3 separate regions of the Homo sapiens genome follow, and regions 2 and 3 are each linked to region 1. A link means that fine-mapping ties the variant in region 1 to the expression of a gene that starts in the linked region. Tissue or cell type: whole blood. Region 1 holds a variant in brackets; each other region holds the start of a gene. All regions are shown on one strand. Distances are between the middles of the regions.

Evidence for each region. PIP is the estimated chance that this variant, and not a neighbour inherited with it, causes the effect.
Region 2: it holds the start of PYGL, and the variant in region 1 is fine-mapped to the expression of PYGL in whole blood (TOPMed, PIP above 0.99).
Region 3: it holds the start of TMX1, and the variant in region 1 is fine-mapped to the expression of TMX1 in whole blood (TOPMed, PIP above 0.99).

Annotation. Positions count from the first base shown.
Region 1 is chr14:50,963,229-50,971,334 of GRCh38, forward strand. No RefSeq gene overlaps it. Among named protein-coding and RNA genes, the nearest start is that of PYGL, 23 kb to the left of the region's middle. The variant A/T (reference allele first, on the strand shown) is at 4,868.
Region 2 is chr14:50,939,929-50,948,034 of GRCh38, forward strand. It overlaps PYGL (glycogen phosphorylase L), which reads right to left and starts at 4,555. Exons shown (of 20, transcript NM_002863.5): 1 at 4,233-4,555. The coding sequence starts at 4,475. It overlaps LOC124903314 (a long non-coding RNA gene), which reads right to left and starts at 2,662. Exons shown (of 2, transcript XR_007064163.1): 1 at 2,181-2,662; 2 at 873-1,277. LOC400212 (a long non-coding RNA gene) reads right to left here. Exons shown (of 4, transcript NR_170195.1): 3 at 7,720-7,839; 4 at 6,362-6,536. RefSeq lists an enhancer at 3,383-3,906 and a silencer at 4,575-4,734.
Region 3 is chr14:51,236,733-51,244,838 of GRCh38, forward strand. It overlaps TMX1 (thioredoxin related transmembrane protein 1), which reads left to right and starts at 3,515. Exons shown (of 8, transcript NM_030755.5): 1 at 3,515-3,712; 2 at 7,124-7,239. The coding sequence starts at 3,561. It overlaps LOC124900346 (small nucleolar RNA SNORA70), which reads left to right and starts at 7,358; the gene lies at 7,358-7,492. RefSeq lists a silencer at 3,351-3,693 and an enhancer at 3,554-3,793.

The sequences.
Region 1 (8,106 bases):
TCCTGGACATAAACCATTTCAATCTATTCCAGCAAATGGGGGAGAAAGACTGACTTCCCTCTCCTCCAAAGCCACTCTTTGATCCCAGTTGATAACATCTTCTTTAAGCCATACATGCCAGTGTAGTGAGCAGATGGAGCTGAGAAGCATTGCTCAGTATTTAGTATTAGAGGTGTGTGCATGGGCAGTTGTGGTTGGTTTGTTCACGTGCACATGGAACAGCTTACAGGGAACAATAGGTGCATGGAGTCATATTGAAGAAGACATGGTCTCTGCCTCCAGGTAATGCATATTCACATAAATTACTGCTAAACACAATTTAAAACTTGAAAATCATTCAAATCTATGTTTGAGGACCCACAAAATACACACAAAACTGGAATTTTAATTTGTTACTCCAAATCCCAAGTGGAACAGCTTTGCATATGAGGACGGAAGGGATGGAGCAGCTCGCTGGGGAATGTGTGGATTCGTGCTTCTCTGCTATGTGGAAAGTATGGTTAAGAGTGAAGGCCCCAGGGCTGGGTATGGTGGCTCACTCCCGTAATCCCAGCACTTTGGGAGGCTGAGGTGGGCGAATCACCTGAGGTCAGGAGTTCGAGACCAGCCTGGCCAGCATGGCGAAAACCTGTCTCTACTAAAAATACAAAAATTAGTTGGGCATGATGGCGGGTGTCTGTGGTCCCAGCTACTTGGTAGGCTGAGGCAGGAGAACTGCTTGAATGCTTGAACCTGGGAGGTGGAGGTTGCAGTGAGCTGAGATCGCGCCACTGCACTCTGGCCTGAGCGACGGAGTAAGACTCTGCCTCAAAAAAAAAAAAAAAAAAAAAAAAGAGTGAAGGCCCTAGAACCGACATGTAAGGGTTTAAATTCCAGCTCTGTCAGTTACCAGCTGTGTGGCCTTGGGCAAATACAGAAACTTTATTTGCTATAGTTTCCTAATTTTTACAATGGGGGATAATGGTAATCCAATGACATGATGTTGTTGTATAAATTAAATGAGTTAATAAATATGAAATGCTTCAAATAGTGCCTGACACACTGAGCACTCCAGTAACAGTAACAGTTACTCTTAATACCTGCCCTAAGAAGTATTGGTGGGAACTATATTCAAGGACTATAAATCTTTTTAAGTTACTCAAAATCAAAACCCTTTGTAAATCATTTTACCCCTCCACATCCTCACTGTGAACGTAATAGCAATGTATGTTTAATTATATACTGACCATTCTCCATTGCAAGGATAAACAGCTTAAACAAGAGGAATCTCCGTGAGTTCCTCCTGCACTAGACACAGCATATTTTCTAACTTAATCCTCACAACCACCTTAGGATATGGATATTATTATCTCTAATTTATGATAAACTAAAACTATTGTTTAAGGTTAATTACCTTGTCTAAGCTCACATCTAGTAAGTGATTGACCTGGGCTGGGAACTGGGTTTTTGTGACCCCAGAGTCCACGAGACAGATTTTCAGGTGAATAAGATTCAAAGAATTAAAAAAATTTTGAAACCAGTTGTGTAGATCTTTATATCAGAAAAAAATTCCCAGCTCAGTTTCTGGTAGCTTAGAGGCAGCAATTTCTTGTGTTCATTTCTTGGGAAAGACGTGTCAAGTCAAGTTGGCTGTGGTCCCAGTTTCTACCGAGTTGTAGAAGCTATGTTGTTTTTTGAGCTAGATCAGCTGTGAGCATTTGACATTCTGAGACATAAAGTCAATATAGAAGAGAACCTCCCCTCTCACTGTTTATTCTCTGCTACGATTGTAAATGTCTCCCAGCTTTCTGCCATTTCCAAAGCATTTACTTTTGTTCAGAAAAAAAAAAAAATCCCAGAAATTAAAGGCCCAGACTAAACAGCATTCATTTATTTAAAACATTACGTAGATATAACCTGTCACTTCACTTTGCTTAAAACCCACCAGTGGCTTCCTGCTACACTTGGAATAAGCCCAAATACTTCATCATGGTGCAGGGGTCCTTGCTCATTTTGCTGCCAAGCCTCTATCCCTACTTTTCTAGAAATAGCACTCAAATTGGATTCAGTGGCTGGAATTCTAAGTGGTGATGTCCTGCCCTCCCTCAGCTAAGAGGTAGACCCAGGATACAAGCAAAACCAGACACCATCTTTCTGGAATTAAATCTTGAGCAGTGAGACAATAAAATGAGGATGAGCTGGAGCTTTTGCGCCCCCTTGGCAGTCTCTGATAAGACCCGATATTCATCAGTTCCTGCTACCTTGATCCCCAGAGCTGCCCTCGTTCCCATCTTTCTGAGCTGCCCCATGTCTTTCTCGCATATTCCTTCTATGCCTTTAGGTCAGCCACAGTCAGGTTGGGTGTTTTTGTAGCCAAAGATTCCTATCTGGCACACCTGCCTGGCAGGGCCTCCCTGCAGTGGTCCCTCAGTGTCTGCGGGGGCATTGGTTCCAGGACCTCCCTGAGATACTGAAATTCACAGATACTCAAGTCCCTGATATAAAATGGTGTAGCATTTTCATATAACCTCAGCAGGCTGGGCTCTCCACCCTCCTTCCTCTCACTGCATGCACCTCACCCTCACTAACTCTTTGACTTACTGGGCTTGTTCCCGCCTCAAGGCCTTTACCCCTTCCCTTGGTCTTGGCTTCTTCAACCCAAATATAACCCCTTCAGAGAGGTAATTGCTGACTTTTCCATATCTCTCTATCTCATAGCCTGTTGGATTTCCTGTGTTGTATTTATTAAGACTTAAAATGATTTTGATCTTTACTTATTATTTCCCTATTTGAATATCAGCTCTAAGAACGTAGGGACCTTGTCTATTTTATTCACTGGTATTCCCAGTAATAGCATTGTTACAACAGCATTTATCACTTAATAGGTGCTCATTAAATATTAATCGTATGAATGAGTGTGTTGTCTGTGGTACATCCTATGTGTAGCAATCATATGTCATATAACCTACAGGTTAAGAGCCTGTGTCTTGGAGTCAGACTATTTGGGTTCAAACCCTGGCTGTCATACTTGTATACTGTGTGACTTTGGGCAAGTTGCTTAACCTCTTGTGCTTCAGTTTCTTCATTTCTAAAATGGTAATAATAAAAATGCATAAGTAAGATGAAGGGTAAGTAAGATGATTCACTAAAAGCCCTTGGTACATTGCCTGGAAAACAATAAGATTCAATATTTGGCAACTTACATTATTAGAGCACGGTTGTCTCTCCATATCCGTGAAGCCTTGGTTTCAGGACACCCCTGGGATACCAAAATTCACAGATAGTTAAGTCTCTGATATAAAATGGTGTAGCATTTGCATGTAACATATGCAAATCCTCCTATATACTTTAAATCTCTAGATTACTTATAATACCTAATGCAATGTAAATGCTTTGTAAATAGTTGTTATGCTGTATTCCTTTTATTTGTATTATTTTTCTTGTTTTTTTAATTTCCTTCCCAGCATTTTCAACCCAAGCTTGTTTCAATGCACCCATGTGGAACCTGCGGATATGATGAGTGATTGGATTTCTCAATTGTAAGAAGTTCTAGTTAGAGATTGTATGATGCACTACTGGCTTAATAGTAGCTCTTTTGGCCGGGCATGGTGGCTCACGCCTGTAATCCCAGAACTTTGGGAGACCGAGGCAGGCGGATCACCTGAGGTCAAGAGTTCAAGACCAGCCTGGCCAACATGGTGAAACCCCGTCTCTACTAAAAATACAAAAATTAGCCTGGCATGGTGGCGTGTGCCTGTAGTCCCAGCTACTCAGGAGGCTGAGGCAGGATAATTGCTTGGACCCGGGAGGTGGAGGTTGCAGTGAGCCAAGATCGCACCACTGCACTTCAGCCTGGGCAATAAGAGTGAAACTCTGTCTCAAAAAAAAAAAAAAAAAAAAATGGAACTGTTTTGGAGAAAACCAAAGCCAAGTTCAACATTTAATATATACCACTTGGGAAAACTCTACTTACAATAGCATGCATTATCTGCCACAATACATGCTACTTTGCTCTTCAGACTAACAAACACAATTCGGTCCCCAAGTACCTCTGTATCAAGCAGGGCCACTGGCAGTTATACGTAATGTAATGATTACCCTTGCACGAGATCTGGACCTTGCTAGCATATTTGTGAGGCTGCAGAATAATTTAAAGAATGCAGTGGGATTATGTGTGTGTTTTTTTCTTTCTTTCTTTTCTTTTTTTTTTTTTTTTTGCATTTCTCTTTTGGCTATTTTGTTTGTATTGCTACTGTTAACTGAATTATAAATAATAGGAAATAAAGAGCTTCTGGGAAGTAGCTGGAAGCTTTTGACAGATTTAGACATCTGAATGATAGCTCTTCACATATCAGTTGGTCCCAAAAACTTTTCCTAGATTTCAAAAATTTGTGATTTGTTCTCAGCATCTTGACAATTTTATTAATTATATTATCCAGTGTATGACTATTTCAATTGTATATTATCCAGTGAATGATTATTAATTTTATGCATGTACAATATATTTTTTCATTTCTATACTGCATTATAATGGGATCTTTTAAAAGACCTTTTAAGTGATAATTAAGATGTGAATTTAAGTTTATCAACTTTCAAAGGAAATAACAAGTAACAGAATGATGAAATTGTTAGCTGGTGTAATGCCTCTGTGACATAGCTGAATTTCTGCTCTGCCCTAACACTGCTTTAAGAAACAGGATGCCTGCAATAAAAAGTTCCCTTTGTAACCGGAACAGTTGAGACTGGTTAGAACCAAAATAGCTGAGCAAATGACTTCAGAAAGAACTCGGGCTTCATTATAATCTCATTTCCATGCTAAATGACACTCTGACCATCACCATAACAGTGGACAATTGCTAGGACAATGACCAGAAGAAGCTATAAAAGG[A/T]CAAAAAAGGAGGAAGGCATCACTCCAGTTCTGGGAAGTTCACTGACCCTTTCCAGAAAAGACCTGAGTCTTCCTCTTTTCATTTTCCTTTCTTTTTTTTTTTGAGACAGAGTCTTGCTCTGTTACCCAGGCTGGAGTGCAGTGGTGCCATCTGGGCTCCCTGCAACCTCCGCCTCCCAGGTTCAAGTGATTCTTCTACCTCAGCCTCCCAAGTAGCTGGGATTACAGGTGCGTGCCACCACACCCAGCTAATTTTTGTGTTTTTAGTAGAGAAGGGGTTTCACCATATTGGCCAGGCTGGTCTTGAACTCCTGACCTCGTGATCCATCCACCTTGGCCTCCCAAAGTGCTGGGATTACAGGTGTGAGCCACCGTGCCCGGCCCCTCTTTTCATTTTTAATGTCCATCCTCTTCGTTAGAGAAACTCTTTATTTGCACCCCTCACCCCTCACTGGTCAAGAAGTTGATTTGTGAGCCATGCTTCCACTTCTTAATTCCATGGCCATTGAATAAAGCCTGCTCTACTTGACAATTTTAGTTTTGTGTATTGGCTTCATGACACTGAACATGGAAAGACTTCATGTTTTGAGGGATCCACTTTGTTGGTTATAAGATGATGCCCCCCATCTTATTGTTTTTCCAAATGTGTAGGCAATAAAAACTTTGCTGAGTATACACTACCCACTCATTCCTTACCTCTGGGCTGTCAGCTCTAGACACACATTAGAATCACCTTACAAATTCCAGATTCTCAGGCTGCATCTTAGACCAACTAAATTAGTAACCTGGCATCAGTATTCTTTCTTTCTTTATTTTTTTTTGAGACGGAATCTCGCTCTGTCGTCTAGGCTGGAGTGCGGTGGCGCGATCTCGGCTCACTGCAAGCTCCGCCTCCCGGGTTCACGCCATTCTCCTGCCTCAGCCTCCGGAGTAGCTGGGACTACAGGTGCCCGCCACCACGCCCGGCTAATTTTTTTTGTATTTTTAGTAGAGACAGGGTTTCACTGTGTTAGCCAGGATGGTCTCGATCTCCTGACCTCGTGATCCGCCCTCCTCGGCCTCCCAAAGTGCTGGGATAACAGGCGTGAGCCACCGCACCCGGCAGCATCAGTATTCTTAAAGTTCCCCAGATGATTTCAGTGTGCAGTGGAGGCTGAGAACCACCACTCTATCAATGGCTGAAGAGTGTCTTTCTTTCTTTTTTTTTTTTTCTGCGACAGAGTCTCGCTTTGTCACCAGGCTGGAGTGCAGTGGCACAATCTCAGCTCACTGCAATCTCCACCTCCCGGATTCAAGCGATTCTCCCGCCTCAGCCTTCTGAGTAGCTGGGATTACAGGCATGCACCATCACACTCGGCTAATTTTTGTATTTTTAGTAGAGACGGGGGGTTTCACCATGTTGGCTAGGCTGGTCTCGAACTCCTGACCTCAAGTGATCCACCCGCCTTGGCCTCCCAAAGTGCTGAGATTACAGGCGTGAGCCACCACCGCTCCCAGCCTAAAGAGTTTCTTTTGACATGTGTTGTAAGATGTGTCTTGATTTGAGAGATGTTAAGGTGTAAAAAACAAAACAAAAAAACCAGCTGGGTCTGGTGGTTCACGCCTTTAATCCCAGCATTTTGGAAGCCCGAGGCAGGAAGATCCCTTGAGACCAGGAGTTCAAGACCAGACTGGGCAACATAGCAAGATTCCATCCCTACAAAAAATTTTAAAATTAGCCAGTAGTGGTGGTATGTGCCTGTAGTCCCAGCTGCTCAAGAGGCTGAGTCAGGAGGATCCCTTGAGCCCAGAAGTTTGAGGCTGCAGTGAACTATGATCATGCCACTGCGTGCCAACCTGAGTGACAATGTGAGACCTTGTCTCTCAAAACAGAAACACAAAACACAACCCTTGCATCTGAGAAATAAGAAAATTGTAATTGCTATTATTAGTCTAGCCCTAGAAGGATTCAGACCATGAAAAATATCATATTGGGTCAGATCAATTTTGTGGGACAACTGATGTTCCTTAGTTGTTCTCCTTTTACAGTGTCTTTGACATTGTTTACTAGGAGTGCACCCCATGTATTATAAAGCTTCCTTTGGTTACTGCCAGACACCTGGCAAGAGCTTAGAAATGAAGCTTGATGCATAAAGGAAAAAAAAAAGGAAAAAAGGGAAACAAAACAAAAAGCATGGTGTGTGATGCGTGTGAATCTCCTGGTCACTGGGTGCACCCTTGTATCCTGTACTCTTTTGGGCCCCTGATTTCACATCCCAACTCCCCTTGGAGTTTGAGGTCAGCCTGACCAACATGGAGAAAACCCGTCCCTACTAAAAATGCAAAATTAGCTGGGCTTGGTGGCACATGCCTGTAGTCCCAGCTACTTGGGAGGCTGAAGCAGGAGAATCGCTTGAACCTGGGAGACAGAGGTTGCGGTGAACCGAGATCATGCCATTACACTCCAGCCTGGGCAACAAGAGCGAAACTGCGTCTCAAAAAAAAAAAATAGACTCAGTGTTTCATCTGATTCCTTGGGATTCTCGCTTTCCCCATCCCTAAGGCAAGGAGAGCAGATGCTCAGATTCTCTTAATATCAAAGCAAAGTGTCCCCTTAGCTAGGATGATAGCTAGCTTAGCCTCAGCATATGTGTTAATTCTTGGTCTGACTTGAAATCTTGAAGATGTGGAATTTGATAGTGGCATGGAGGTTTGGCTGGACCTCAGAAATTTTAAAGACTGAGTGATTTCTTTCCTATAAAGAAATTTGTGGTTTTCTGCTGGTGTATCAGGTCTTAATACAACACTACACCTAGATAAAGTTTGCGTATTCTGCAAAGCCTGTTATTTCTGCCAAAATGCCAATGATAAAATCAACCTCTTGAGAAGCTACAATTAACCTTCACCTAGTCATCATTTCAAGCCTGCCCAACCAATAAGCCTGCAGACATATTTCTTCACATCTGAGAGAAACAGTGCCCACCAGGCAATTAGGAAAATACGTTGAGATCCCATATGAAAATCAGCATTACGGCAGGAACAATTAGGATCCTCATTTACTGCAGGTGATTTGCTCATTTTAAACTAATTAAACTACTAGGTTGAAAACACAGTTCAGAAACAGAGTGTAGAGTAGTTCATATTTAATACCTCCATCTTTCCTTAAAAATTGTTTGTTAAATGGAAGCCTAACAATAAATCAAAAAGTCAATAAATCTTTGCTACTAGAAGTGGGTTTAGATAAGATAAAGATGGTTCCA
Region 2 (8,106 bases), 23 kb before region 1:
GAACAATTGAGTTCTAAATTTCACAACAAATGGTCAACATCCATGACCTAACGGGCCACCTAACACTGCTTTCCAGAACACATCATCTTCGTTTTCATCCAAGTTGTTTGAATGTCTATAATGCTGTTACTAGAACCCTCACCAGCTATTAGATACCTTCGAATGATTGGATAAAAGTACCTTCTCTGGGGCAGACATAGGCAATGGCTGGTGCTCTAGTACGTGATGACCGCTGTCACAGGTAATAGTATCTTAAGCCACAAATACCCATTTGCATAGTATTACCCAGTTTAAAAAAATCCTTCCATGTGTGTATTTTCATTATCTCTATAACCATGATGTTTTGCCTTTTTCTTTTAAGTAATCTACAAAAAGCTTGTTTATATAGTATATATTCCACACTTGCAATTGTGAGGTTATACCCCCAGGAATAATGACTACATCTGTATTAAATTTGCCTCCTTTTTAATGATTCCACATTAGCACGAACTTAAGTCTTCTTAAAAATATTTCAAAGTCTCTCTTGAGAGATATGTGGTTGCTCAGAATAAAGTAAATGAGAAAATACTTCCTTGCATGACAGACTTTATAAGGACAGGAACGTAAGGTGATTCCCTGTTTTCTCACAAATAACTTCTTAGAGGTAATCTCTCCTTATATTTGGGAATATATAAGACTTCAAAAAATAGATCTTGGCCATACTCTTACTTACTGGTCTCTAAATATTTGTTACATATGACTGATAGTAAAATATATGAGCATCTCCAATATACTTTATAAATTACATGCATGTACTATGATTACTAGTATTTTATGTAAAAAGTGGATATTTTCAAAAGGCTTGTAAAATAAAATAAAGAAGATATAACAAATATTTTTAAATTGTATGTTTTATTTTTATCCCCAGCATTAGTCAGAGGGCCTGGGTACTTCCGGGAAGACCTCTGGAACACCTGTCAATAAACCTGAGACTTGCAGGACAGGCAAGAGTTGAGCATAGAAATGTGGTAGGAAGGACACTGCAAGTGAATCGGGGGCCCAGAGTGGGGATTGGTTTGTTGGGAGAGCAAGGTGGGTACAGAGGGTAATGGAAGATAACAAGGGAAGAACAGGCCCACCTGGACTGAGAAGTGCTTTCGAATACTTGCTTAAGTTCTATGGCAGGCAAGAGGAGCCAATGATAATTGAGCAGGGGCAAGATGCGTTGCTTTAGGAAGCTTGAGCAGACCACAATGCACAGAATGAGACGGGATCATATACTCAAATGCCTTCAGGAGCTAGGCAGAGAAAATAAATGTGTAATTGAGGTCACATAAAACAAAGAAGAGTACTGGGCTAAGAAATGGAGTGTGCAAGTCCTGACCACAGGCGCTAAAAATTAAATTCCTGAAAAATGTCTTGGCCAACAAAGTATGTCTGCTATCCTTATTCAGCCTCAGGCTGCCGGTTTTACCACTTCTGGAAAGCAAAATAACCACGTGAAGTCAGCTGCAACAAATGGGTAGCTAGAGCCTCACCAAGGCAGGAAGAGATAATGGAGGAGAGCACGTCATTCAAGGGAACCTATAGAAATCAACAGAAATTGGCAAACAGTTGAACGGCAAAAAGTGAGACTAAAGTTTGCGTCTGGATTGTCAAGATGACAATGGCATGAAAACAAAAAACACAGAGGCCAGTCGTGGTGGCTCATGCCTGTAATCCCAGCACTTTGGGAGGCCGAGGTGGGTGGATCACCAGGTCAGGAGTTCGAGACCAGCCTGTCCAAATGGTGGAATCCTGTCGCTACTAAAAATACAAAAAGTAGCTGGGCATGGTGGCATGCACCTGTAATCCCAGCTACTCAGGAGGCTAAGGCAGGAGAATCACTTGAACCCGAGAGGCAGAGGTTGCAGTGAGCCGAGATTGCATCATTGCACTCCAACATGGGTGACAGAGTGAGACTCTGTCACAAAACAAAACAAAACACGGGAAGATGGGGCAGGATTGGGAGAAATAATGGTTTGAGTTTTTAACGTACTGAGTTTGAGGAAATAGGAAGATATCTAGATATGTTCACTAAACACTCAGAAATGTACGCATAGAGTTAGAAAAGGAATTCAGACTAGGGATCCATATTTGGGATTCATCTGCACAGTTATTGGAGAGCAAGGGAGGTGGGAGAGGAGCTTGGACACACCTACTTGCTCTACTTTATGAGGGCAGGAACCATCCTGTTTAGACAGACGACTGTGATGGAGTAGATATTTGATGAACACGTGTGGAATGAAACATGTTCATTGTTGTATCCCCAGTGTATCGCTATCAGAATTTACACACGTCGGAATTCCTGGCTTATATCTGCACTCACGTAGAAAAGGAGAGCCCAGTGAAGAAACTGGCCGGAGAACCAGGAAAACCATAAAGCACTGCATAAGCCACTGAAGGAAAAACATACAAGATTCTCTGGTGCTCTATGATGCTAAATGCTACAGAGGCGTGAGTGTGTGTTTCTAATATATGCTCAGTGTCCCACCCTTCCGCTTAAAATTGTTAAAAATAATTTTTAATGAGAGGCGCAGTATGGTGTACTTAGTAGCATTCCCTTTGTGTAAATAAATTTTTAAAAGATAGTGGCCGAGTGTGGTGGCTCACACCTGTAATCCCAGCACTTTGGGAGGCCAAGGAAGGAGGATCATTTGAGGCCAGGAGTTTGAGAGCAGCCTGGCCAACATGGTGAAACCTTGTCTCTACTAAAAATACAAACTTAGCCAGGTGTAGTGGTAGGAGCCTGTAGTCCCAGCTACTCGAGAGTCTGAGGCAGGAGAATCGCTTCAACCCTGGAGGCGAAGGATGCAGTGAGCCAAGATGGCGCCGCTGCACTTCATTCAGCCTGGGCGAGAGTGAGACTCTGTCTCAAACAAAACAAAACAAAACAAAACAAAACAAAACAACAAAACAGTAAATATATGTATACATAAAGTGTTTTCTAAGGTGCATTTAAATTTTTAAGGATACATTTTAGCAGTTGCTACCTTGGTGGAGGCCTAGGTCTTTGGGGTGAAGAAGAGTTACTTTCCATTTGAAAACTGTTACAGTTGCAATTTCTTACTATGAGAATTTACATTCATTTCCTTTCTTAAAAATTCCTATGGGGTTTCTTGGGCACTGGGATTATAGACCATTTTTTTTTCTTCACACCTTTACATAATTAAAAAGTTCTAATAAATGTTTATATATATTTCCCACTGCCCCTGGGATGTATCCCAATCTTTTATTCTTTCCAATATGTCTCTACCTGGCTTCTCCAGTTTCCTCTCCCAATACAGACTCACACCCGCCCTCACTCCAGCCTGCACACAATCCCTCTCCCTGCCATGTCCTCCCCAGTCCTTCCCCACTGCCTCTCGCCCTCTTCGCAAACTGTCAGGCAGAGATATTGTCCCTCTGTAGGTCCAAAATCACCCTAAGGAGGTCTCTGCTCCCGCCCCCACGCCGTGGATGGAGGTGGTCCCTGACCAGCCTTCCTCAGCAGCTCTGGGGGCAGGCCTCGGGTGTGGAAGGGCTAAGGGTCGGGGGAGTGTGTGTCTTCGGGGAGGACGAGTCCAGGGCATTGCCTGGCCCTGGGCCGCCTTTGCGAAAGACTCACGGAATTCCAGGAGCTACACCCACTCAGGAGAATGGGTGGGCGGCGCTCTACGCTTGGAGCGGGACCCTGCCCCTCCTCTGCACCACACTTAGCCACTCCCAGAGGCCTGAGACTTACGACCTTTTCCCAGCTCGGCGTTTGTCTCCCCTCCCAAAATACCAAGCTCCAGCAAGGCAAGATTTTTGTCCCTTTTGTTTAGGGCTGAGTGTCCAGGGCAGAGAATAGTGTCCGGCATACAGGACAAGAGGCCCCCGTCACCTCTTGATTAAATGCTGAGAGTCAAAGTTCCAAAAAAGTTTGTGAAGTGGACAGGCGAGAGGGGCCTGGGCTTTTGCCCACCTGGCGGTTTCCAGGGGCGGACGGCACAGTGGTTTGGGCGGGACACTGGCGGGTGGCACCTCGGAGACATGAGTTCGGCGTCTGTTGGGAGGCCTAATCTGTCCCCCAGGCTGCCCGCCCACAGCCTAGACACGTCTCCTCTGGACTTCGGGGCAAGGACCGGGTGCAAGGGACCACTCTGAGGGGTTCTCCACCTCGTCCCGCCCGGCCGCGGCCGGAGACTCCGACTCCGGGCTGGACCCCGGCCCGCCGTCCCGCCCCCGGTTACCTTGGGGCACTTGTCGTAGTAGTGCTGCTGCGTGCGGATCCAGCGCCCCACCAGGTGGTCGCGCACCGTGTGCGCCAGCGCGAAGTAGTAGTCGCGGGTGGTGGCCACGTTGCGGTCCTTGACCAGCGTGAAGTGCAGGTGCCGGTTGAAACTCTTCTTCAGCTCTGCCACGTTCTCCACGCCCACGATGCCGCGGATGCTGATCTGCCGCCGCTTCTCCTGGTCCGTCAGGGGCTTCGCCATGGCTGGGGCGGCGGGCTGCGCGGCGGGCTGCGCAGAGAGCTGGAAGTGCGGCCGGAGGCGCTGGGCTGCCGGGCAGGGGTGGAGTCCGCCCCGCCGCGCCAGCAGCTTTCAACGCGCACGAAAGTTTGGGGCCCGCCCCCTCGGGCGGTGCCGTCCCCGCTGCACTCCCACCGCGTCCCGGCCCCTGCCCCAGGCCGGAGGGCAGAGGAAGTGCCCGGCCCCTCCCGAGGCTCTGGGGCCGCAGTGGGCTCGGGGGTGGGAGACGAGGTCCAAGCGCCGGCGAGACCCCTGCCAGCCCGGGACCTGGGCTCGGAGGCTCCCTTCCGGATTTCCAAAATCTGCGGAGGCAGCATTTGTTCCGCCTCTCCCCTCTAGAGTGTGGAGACAGGAGGACGTCTGTGTAGGGAAGCACGTCGTTGGCAGACTGCTGTTTTGCCGATGTTTATTTGTTATGCCATTATGACTGTTAGGATTTCTCACCTGGAGTGGCTTCCGCCATAAGCGCCGGGATCTGGAAGGACGGCACGTTTGACTTCTGTTGTCCCAACCTCACTTGCCAGCCCTTGGCACCGCCCCAGCTTGGATCCTCAGGGCGCCTCTGTTATTTTCATTCATTTTTTTTGAGGACTCCAGGGTTCAGGTTTCTTAACTCCTGGACCAAAGTTCGCCCCGCTCGTAGCACCCTGTCTCTCATCCTTAGAGGTAGGTTACTAAGAATCAGAGTAGGTGAGGTGAAGCTCTAGGGTCATTATGCGGCAGGGGCTTTTACCTTAGGCTTCTTCGAATTACGTTTTAACTGCAGTGGAGGGTGTGGGGGGAGGAGAGGGAGAAAACAGAAGGGTATGTGTGTGGAAAATGAAGGGATTACTCACTGGACTAGTTGCCTTCTTTACAAAAAACAACCCAGTCTGTGTTACTGTGCGGTACAGGCTGATCTTTGCACCTCCACTTTGGGTGGTATTTGAATATGCGTGTTTATGTGTGCTTAAACCTTGGTAAAGGCAAACACTTGGCATTTTAGGATGTCAGAGGTTTTTTCTTCCTCATTAAGTAGTATTAATATATTATTTTAGAAACAGTCCATTGCCAGAATTAAGTTTTCTTTTTCCTTTTTCTTTTCTTTTTCTTTCTTCTTCTTCTTTTTTTTTTTTTTTTGAGACGGAGTCTCACTCTGTTGCCCAGGCTGGAGTGCAGTGGCGCGATCTCGGCTCACTGCAAGCTCCGCCTCCCGGGTTCACGCCATTCTCCTGCTTCAGCCTCCTGAATAGCTGGGACTACAGGCGCCCGCCACCTCGCATTTTTTATTTTTTATTTTTTTATTTTTAGTAGAGACAGGGTTTCACCATGTTAGCCAGGATGGTCTCTATCTCCTGACCTCGTGATCTGCCCGCCTCGGCCTCCCAAAGGGCTGGGATTACAGGCGTGAGCCACCGCGCCCGGCCAATAGTCACATATATTCTTCTAAGTTTATTTGTTTGTTGTTTTTTGAGACAGGGTCTCACTCTGTTACCCAGGCAGAGTGCAGTGGCGCGATCTGGGCTCACTGCAAGCTCCGCCTCCCGGGTTCACGCCATTCTCCCGCCTCAGCCTCCCGAGTAGCTGGGACTACAGGCGCCCGCCACCACGCCCGGCTAATTTTTTGTATTTTTAGTACAGATGGGGTTTCACCGTGTTAGCCAGGATGGTCTCGATCTCCTGACCTTGTGATCCGCCCTCCTCGGTCTCCCAAAGTGCTGGGATTACAGGCGTGAGCCACCGCGCCCGGCCAAGTTTTCTAGAAAAATCTTAGTATACTTATATTAATATATTTTGTTTTTTATAATAAACCCAAGTTGATTATTTTGAATTCACACATGGTGGTGGTGGGGGGGGGGGGGGGGGCGGGTAATGGATTAATTGATTCAGACCAAATGTGACCCTCACCATAAAAGTGAAAGTTCAAAGCTCATAGTTCTGACAAAATTTCCTGAATCCTTGTCCTCCCAGATTCTGAAGTTTGGACTTGAGCTTTTGGGGCAGAGACTGAATTGGGCCTTATGCAACTCTTGCAATACCGATGACCTGCAAAGGACAGTATGGAAGAGATGAGCATTAGAGTTTGGATCCGGATGGGGCCAGAAATACCCTGAATTAAGAGTGGGAAGGGGGGGCCCATCAAAATCATTGATCTTAAAAATAAGTAAGGCCTGTGGGGTGAAATTTGAAATAAAGCAGAAAGATAAGCTTCTTTGATTATTATATAACTTAAAAAAGTGTTTATCAGCTTTGAATACCCCCAAGATGGTCACAGCATTAAGCCAGTTATGGGTCATTCGTACATAAGTGTGAAATTAGTCACTCAGCTTTAACAGCTGGATGAAAAATAGGGTAGAGCCTAGGATGAGGGAATACCAGGTCTGAGTAGGTCTTCCTCCCAGAAAGGTCTCTGAGCAGGAGAAGGCATCATAATGTCTGGGCATTGGGGAGTGAATAATTAGGGGGCACACAAGAAGGGATGAAAGACACCAAAAGCAAGCTTACTCGGTTTCTTAGTTTTGCTTAAGACAGTTTCAAATAGATGGCTCCCAGCTCCGCTGTCTACTTTCCTGTACTAAATTCTTGTTGGAAACTCAGGGTAATGATGAACTAATGAACACACTATTTTCTTGATTCACTATCCAGTCGGTGAGCCTGCACCCCCGGCTTGAACAATTCTCTATGCAGAAAAATCATGAACTATAGAATGCTCAATATATAGAGTATGGGGAAAAACTATCCATCTCCATGTTAAAAAGAACGTGATGGAACCAGGTGATTTAGGGTGTTCCATAGACCCAGTCTTAAACGACAATGAATTACATTGCAAGACAGTTATTCCCCTTTCACTTTTCTTTAAGTCTTTCTGGAAAGTCCTTTGTGTTAACATGTTAGCATTTTTTAATCTATATTTTTAACAGAATGCAGGTACAGACTCTAAAAGTTCTTGAAGTTTTAGCATCTAACTAGAATTTAATACAATTATCTTCCATTTATGGTAAATGATACTTTTTCAGTTGACATTCTGATATAAACTTTGTTTCATCTGCTTGTTCTGTGCTAGTCTAGGACACTGAGGCCTTGAGAGGTTAAGTTACTTGACTAAGAAAATTAATATCTTTAAAAACCTTTCCTTTAGCCTCTCTTGACCAGAAAGAACCAGAAACTATGGATCCCTGAAAAAGTATCAGATTTCAGTGGCTCACATGTTTATAGCAGCCTTACTCACAATGGCCTATATTATTCCTGCTTCTCATCCACTGCTTCCCCGTGGCTGCTGTAACGAAATGGCGTTTGTAAGTAGCTGAACAAACAGTCCAGAACTCATAGGACAAGTGTAAGTTTCCCACTGTTGGAAATACAAAAAAACATGAGAAAGTAGTGTGTTAGTTCGGGTCTTCAGAGAAGCAGAAGCTAAAACAGGATTAAACATGTTAAGATTTTTTACTGGGGTAAATGCTTGTGGGAGGGAAAAACGGGGAGTGCTAGCCAGAGAGAGCATCAGACTGTGATGCCAGTGTGACCTAGAGTGAAGGGGAGAGAGAGGGAAGGGTAGAAGGGCATATCTCAGACAGCCCTGTAGTCCCAGGAAGATCCAGCAGTGCTGCTGGGCAGT
Region 3 (8,106 bases), 270 kb after region 1:
ATTAATATCAATGTTACAGATATAAAAAGGATTATAATACTATGAACAACGTTAGGCCAACAAATTAGACAACTTACATGAAATGGACGTATTCCTAGAAAGATGCAAACTACCACAACCAACTCAAGAAGAAATAGAAAATCATAGTAGACTTATAACAAGAGATTGAATTAGTAATTTAAAAGCTACCTACAAAGGAAAGCCCAGGCCTAGGTGACTTCACTGCTAGACTCTATCAGACAGTTAAAGAAGAGTTAATACAAATTCTTCACAAACACTTCCAAAAAATAGAAAAGGAGGGAACACTTCCCAGCTTATTTTACGAGGCCAGTTATATCCTGATAGCAAAACCAAAGACATTACAAGAAAACTACAGACCAATATCTCTAAGGAATATAGACATAAAAATATGCAACAAAATACTAGCAAACTGAATGTGGCAATATATAAAAAGAATTATACACCATGGCTAAGTGGGATTTATACCAAGAATGCAAGGTTGATTTCATGTCCCAAAATCAATCAATGTAATACACTGTATCTTTGGGAGGCTGAGGCAGGCAGATCATGAGGTCAAGAGAAAGAGACCATCCTGGCCAACATGGTGAAACCCCGTCTCTACTAAAAATATAAAAATTACCTGGGCGTGGTGGCACGTGCCTGTAATCCCAGCTACTCGGGAGTTGAGGCAAGAGAATTGCTTGAATCCAGGAGGCGGAGGTTGCAGTGCGCTGAGATCACACCACTGCACTCTAGCCTAATGACAGAGCAAGACTCCGTCTCAAAAAAAAAAAAAAAAAAAAAACAAAAAAAACACCATATCAATAGAGTAAAGGACAAAAACCACATGGTCATTTCAATAAATGCAGAAAAAGGATTTGTCAAAATTCAACACTTCTTCAAGATAAAAACAGACGACCTTCTAGGAATAGAAGGAAACTTCCTCACCTGTATAAAAGGCAACTATTTAGAATTCACATTAACATCATACTTAGTGGTAAAAGACAACGCTTTTCTCCTAAGAACAGGAACAAGATAAGTATGTTTGGCCACTCTTGCCATTTCTATTCAACATTGTAATGGAGGTCTAGTGTCTTAGCTTGGGCTGCCATAATAAAATATCATAGACTGGGTGGCTTAAACAATAGAAATTTATTTTCTCACAAATTTAGGAAGTTCTCATTGTACTCAAGGCAAGAAAACTCTGGACTAGGGTGTTGGCTGTTGAGATGGAAATTGGTGGTCAGATTCAGGATACGTTTTGAAGGTAACGTTTACAAGATTTGCTCATAGGTTACAAGAGGAGAAGGTGAAGAGAGAGAACAATAAAGAATTAACATGTACATGTTTGGCTAGAGAAACCTGGTGAACCTCGGGGCTCTTTAGTGGATGGAAGACCAGGAGAGGAAGAATCAAGAATTATCTTTTTTGGCCGTTTGATGTTTGAGCTTCTGAACCCCCAAAATCTGAGACAGGTCTCAGTCAATTTAGGAAGTTTATTTTGCCAAAATTAAGAATGCGCGCCCATGACATAGCCTGAGGAGGTGCTGAGGACATGTGCCTAAGGTGGGTGGAGCACAGCTTGATTTTATATTATATATTTTAGGGAGACATGAGACATCAATCAACATATGTAAGATGAACATTGTATTGGCCTGGAAAGGTGGGACAACTCAAAGCAAAGGCGGGACAAACTCGAAGCCAGGAAGGGGCTTCCAGGTCATAGGTGGGTAAGAGACAAATGGTGGCATTCTTCTAAGTTTCTGATTAGCCTTCCAAAGGAGGCAATCAGATATGCATTTATCTCAGTGAGAAGAAGGATGAGAGGCAGGTTTGCCCTAAGCAGTTCCCAGCTTGACTTTTCCCTTTAGCTTAATGATTTTGGGGCCCCAAGATTTCTTTTCCTTTCACCAGCTATTACATACCCAAGAGATGTTTAGCAAGGAGTTGAATACATATGCCTGTAGTTCCCAGAAGGATCAGAGTCTGAATGATATACAGTTGAATACATATGCCTGTAGTTCCCAGAAAGATCAGAGTCTGAATGATATACAGTTGAATACATATGCCTGTAGTTCCCAGAAAGATGAGAGCCTGATGATATGAAGAGAAAGGTGGCGGGAGATGGGGGGCGGGGGGCAGTAAAGCATCCTGGAGATGCCGATGTCCGGAAGTAAAGGAGGACCAGCCAAGAAGTTTGAGAAGAATCAGCTACTGTAGGACAGAAAAAAAAGCGAGCTGCCCAGACAGCAAGATAGTAAAGTGTTTCAAGGGTGTGGTAGAATGGGGCTAGGAGTCATGCTAGATGCATTGAGAAGAAACAATTGGGATTTATCTTGCTGGTCGCTGGTGTCCTTGAGAGGGCTATTCAGTGGAGGGGTGGGGAAGGGGACTAATTGGGGTTAATTAAGTTGAAAAGGTGAGGTAAGATAGTGGCAACTATTTCCTTGAGACTTAGTCTCTCTCTATAGCCCAGATTGGAGTGCAGTGGAATGATCTCGGTTCACTGCAACCTCCGCCTCCCGGGTTCAAGCGATTCTCCTGCCTCAGCCTCCTGAGTAGCTGGGACTACAGGCGCCTGCCACCACGCCTGGCTAATTTTTGTATTTTTAGTAGAGACGGGGTTTCACTATGTTGGTCAGGCTGGTCACAAACTCCTGACCTCAAGTGATCCGCCTGCCTTGGCCTCCCTGTTTTGCTAGGATTACAGGCGTGAGCCACCGCACCTGCAACTATTTTCATTTGACTGATGGGGCAGTGCACATTTTGGTTTGCATTTGTATTTACGAATGTTTGAGAGAAAAAACTCAAATATCTTACAAGCCTATGTGTCTGGTTCCATTTTGAAGTACTGACCTAGGATCTCTGTACCTACTGAATTTTTTTTGAGAGATAACATACACCTGAAAGTGCATAAAGTGCACTGTCTTAAAATGTACAGCTTGATCCTTCTTTAAAAAAAATCATATACGTACGCCCATGTAACTACTGTTCATATCTAGATGTTGAACACCTCCAACACATCCAACATAACCATAATGTTCCTCTGCACCTTCCCTGTCTATAATCTCTCAGAAGTAAACCAATATTCCGACTCCTATAAAATCCATTAGCTTTACTACATGTTTCAAAGAAAACAAATGAGAACTCTGAAGGACATTTAATTGGAAAACTGCTTTAGCACATTATAAACTTACCAATTTGCTTGTAAACGCTAACCATTTGGCGCCAAAATCCTGGGAGGGTCTTTTAAACCGTTCTTCCTCAAAGCACCGCCCCACTTTTTACACCACGCCTCCTTTTGCTCTGTTCCTTCCCCCACAATATTGGGACACCCTAGGCGGTAGAAGCAGCCGCTTTTCTGTCATGCGCATTGCGGAGAGTCGTTCTTCCCTCTTTCCCGACTTCACCACTCACTGGGATCAGACCCCTGTCATGCGCATTGAGAGTCCTCTAGACAGGCGCTCCTCGCAGCACCGTAGTGCGCTTGCGCTGAGCAGCCCGCGAGGGCGGAAGTGGGAGCTGCGACCGCGCTCCCTGTGAGGTGGGCAAGCGGCGAAATGGCGCCCTCCGGGAGTCTTGCAGTTCCCCTGGCAGTCCTGGTGCTGTTGCTTTGGGGTGCTCCCTGGACGCACGGGCGGCGGAGCAACGTTCGCGTCATCACGGACGAGAACTGGAGAGAACTGCTGGAAGGAGACTGGATGATAGAATTGTGAGTGCGGGGCGGCCAGGGTCCTACGTCCGTGCCTGGACACACGACTTCACCCCGCACGTTCCTCGTGCGGGTCGCAGGCTCCCCAGGACTGCGCCTCCGAGTTGCGGAGCGAGCGTCCCCGACTTCTGCAGCTCCCCAAACTCTTGGGATCTGCCGCCAGCTTGGTCCCACCCCCTCGTCTCTTACCCGTGAATGTTAAGTTTCTTCTGGGGTGCACCCTCGTTTCGTTTCTTGGGTTGTGGTGCGCCCAAAGGGTTAGTGCCAATGCGAATTCTGACATTTTTCATGACTTTGAGGATGCGACTGGGGCGCGGGGAGGGAGGTGTCCGACTCGTGTCTAAGTAGTTAAAGTGATTCTTCACAGACTTCTACACTTATTTTCACCACATTTTACATAAGAGAATATTGAGCAAAATTTCTCCTCTCGTTTTGTCTGTCCTTAAAAGATAGTCTCTTTATGGTGTTGGAATTTGGCGCTTTTAAGCTTTTTTTAATGGATTGGGTACGTTTCTTTTTTATTGTAAATACTGAGTCAATTCAAGTTGGGTTATTTTTAAGTTTTCGTTTTCTCTTTTTGCCTCCTCTTTTGCTTTCTCTTTTTTTCACTCCTCATCTCATTTTTCCTTTGGGTGTCTTTGTAGTGTAGAGAATACCTTGGGTTGTGACTCCTAGGTCTTTGTAAATGGTATTACATTAAAAGATAATGTATTAATGTATACACTCTCAAGAGCGCCAGGTCATCATTTATTGCTCGAACGAAATCATGTATTTTGTGTGGTGATTTCAATTTAATAATATCTGTTCTGCCGCGGTGGGAAATAAAGTATCTGTCTTTGCTTTAGATGCTAAGTCGTTGTTGATGGTGGTATTATACATATTAGCAGTATTTACTGATAATAGTAAAAGCATAATTATTAACAGTGTACTGGACACCACTAAGCACCTTTACACGAATACCATATTTAATTCCCTACAAATTCTCTATGACAGGTGTTTTTCACGTTTTACAAATGAGTAACAAGATACCTAAATACTTTAGTTAACCTATGCAGATATTGCTGTGCTGGCTTTCTTTGGGTCTTCAGAGTAGGCATACAATAATTGTTGTTAGAACACCTTCTTCTTTAAAAAGGTTCAGCTGGAAGTGGCGTACGCTACCCAGGAGATTGAGGTATGAGGATGACTTGAGCCCAGGGGTTCAAGAGATCCTGGGCAACTAGCAAAATAAATAAGTAAATAAATAAAAATGAAAAGACAACAGGGTTCAGGTGAGTGTTTTCTTGTGTCACGAATACAGCAAGGGTTGTCAAGTTAAGGAGGCCAGTGAAAGTGACATCCCCAAGGGAGAACCCAGAAGGCTAAATCAGTAAGTCCTGTGTTATTTTTTAAAAAAACAAAACTGGCCGGCGCGGTGGCTCACGCCTGTAATCCCAGCACTTTGGGAGGCCGAGGCCGGTGGATCACGAGGTGAGGAGATCGAGACCATCCTGGCTAACACGGTGAAACGCCGTTTGTACTAAAAATACAAAAAATTACCTGGGCGTGGTGGCACGCGCCTGTAGTCCCAGCTACTCGGGAGGCTGAGGCAGAAGAATCGCTTGAATCTGGGAGTCAGAGGTTGCAGTGAGCCGAGGTCGCACCACTGCACTCCAGCCTGGGCGACAGAGTGAGACTCAATCTCAAAAAAAAAGTAGAACATTTATATGGAGGGTAAGATAAAGGGAAATTTTCATAGTATGCATGTAGTCTGCAATTCTGAAATGAATTTTCATTCAGGCACCATTGAAAGCTTCAGGGGAGAGGAACTGTGACACTTTTTCAGTCATCATCATGAGTAACTTGTTTTAGATCGTGCCTGTAAAATAGTGTTATAAGCAATATATTAAGCAATAGTGATCGTGTGTGTATATGCAAAATACAGTCAAGTATTACTCAAGGATATTTTTTAACTCATTATGGTCCAACTATATAAATACAGCAATCAGAAGTAGTATTAAGGAGAACAAGACTAACAAAACATTGAGTATGAGGTAAATCCACATTGGAGCATCTATCTGAAATTATGCTATAGAGTAGTAGTTTTTCTTTTTCCTTAAGTAGAGATTCTAAAGTAAGTTTTTAGAAAGCAACTGACAGCCTGGGCAACATGGCAAAAACCAGTCTCTACAAAAAAATACGAAAAATTAGCTGGGCGTGTGGGCAGGCATCTGTAGTCCCAGCTACTTGGGCTGAGGTGGGAGGATGTCTTGAGCCCGGGAGGTTGAGGTTGCAGTGAGCCCAGATGGCGCCACTGCCCTCCAGCCTGGGTAACAAAGCGAGACCCTGTTTCAAAAAATAAAAAAGCAACTGAGCAACAAAACGAACCTGAAAAAGAAGGACTCTAGTAGTTTTAGTAATAGTCTGCTCCTAATTACAAGTGAATTATCTACAGTAAATCCATTTCTGCTCAGAAGTTTTGTCATGGAGATATTTTCATTGTAATACGATTTATTGTTAGGAGCTTGGCTTTTATACTACCAGTTTGTCTTGTTCTACAATGTCTATTTTAGGAGTTTGGTTTTCATAAAACAAGTGAAGAAAATGTGAAGTACAGAAAGTATAGTTTTGTGTTTAACTGCTTTAGGCTTTATTCTTCCTGGTTCTGTTAAAAAAAAAAAAAAAAAAAGAACAACCCTGTGGTGTATTATAAGATAAAATACAATAAAGTGGAAAAATAAGATCCTCAGGAGATAATACCAGAGGAGTAATTTAAATGCTAATATGCTTGCATTTGTAAATCCAAGGTCTTGGAAACAGGATGACCTAACTGGCCAAGAGTTTTGTTTGGCCTGCTTAGTATTTGTGTGTGGGTTATTTTTTGAGGTAACATTCTCATATAAAAATGCAGCTCTCCATCTTCTTTTAAATATGAATAGCCAGCCTTAGTGTGCCAGCATCCTTAGTGGCAATCCTACTTAATAATGGTTGCCACTTTAAGATGGAATATGTGCTTTCTTATTCACCACAGCCCAGGACACTTCTGTTTTTCCAACACCTTGCATTTGTGACTCTGCATTATAAATTATTAAAATTGGTAAGCTCTAACTTTGGTCTTGAGCTTTCTGGTGGCCACACCGTTAATAGAGAAATGCAAAAGTTTTCTAAAGAGCTGTTTTGCATGTGAAAAAATCCTGTGTCTTATTCTCAGAATTTTATTTGATTAGCATCATCAGTTCATCATTCTTGATTTCCGGATTGTTAGATCTACCCTTAAAAGTTTTTCATCTGCATAAAATTAACCACCTTATCATCTTCAGTGTTTTCATATGAAATATTCTTCATAAATTATACATTTAAATTTTTTATCCCAAGATAAATGGTCATACTAAAGTGCTTAACTTTTTTTAAAAAAAAATCTGTATTTCTTAGTTATGCCCCGTGGTGCCCTGCTTGTCAAAATCTTCAACCGGAATGGGAAAGTTTTGCTGAATGGGGAGAAGATCTTGAGGTTAATATTGCGAAAGTAGATGTCACAGAGCAGCCAGGTACTGTAAGTCTTTGGTTAGTTTTGTTTCTTTGCTGTTTGGGTTGATATATTTATCCTTTTTTCTACATTGCATAGTCTTAATTCTACCTTTCTTTAGGTTTTGAAAACCTAACAGTCTGCAGCTAGTTAACCTGACTTGTCCACCTCCCTGCTGGGGGCTCAGTGTGCAATGGTTGCAAAATGGAGATTCCCTGGTTGTGTATACACCTCATTTCTTGAATGTGTTGCTTTAAGGGTTCTTGAAGACATTACCCTCTTTTTATTCTTGCCCACATAACTGCCTCTGATTTGTTGTTCTTTGCATCCCAGGCCCCAGACTAGTATGTAAGATGCCTTTGAGAAGTCCTAGGACACTGTGGTTCAGGTGAACATTGGCCAAGCCACATTTGCATCCATACCAGGCTTCAGAATAAGGAGCATGTGGTTGAGTGTTTTTCTGGAGTCAAGGTCACGTTCCCTGACAAAAGAAGACCTGAATCTCTGAAATTGAGTTTTAAATTTAGTACCTATGATTTGAGGATGTGGGCTTCTAAATATAAAGCCCTCGTGGTTGTGAGGTCAAGTGCACTCCTGACTTGGTCCCTGGACAAGTGGCAGGTCCTGCCCTTAAGGAGGTTCCTTCCACAGACCAATCTCATCTTACCGTTCTCGGTAGTCACACTACCCTTGGATTCTTGGCTGTCCCATCCCAAATGGTAATAATAGGTAATATTTATCGAGCGCTTGCCTATTATAGCACTCTTCCAAATATCTTGTGTTTATTATTTAATCCTTATACAACCCCGTGAAATATGTAATGTCCCCATTTCACAGATAAGAAAACTGAGGCACAGGTCAATTCTCTGTAATATCAGTGCTTGACACA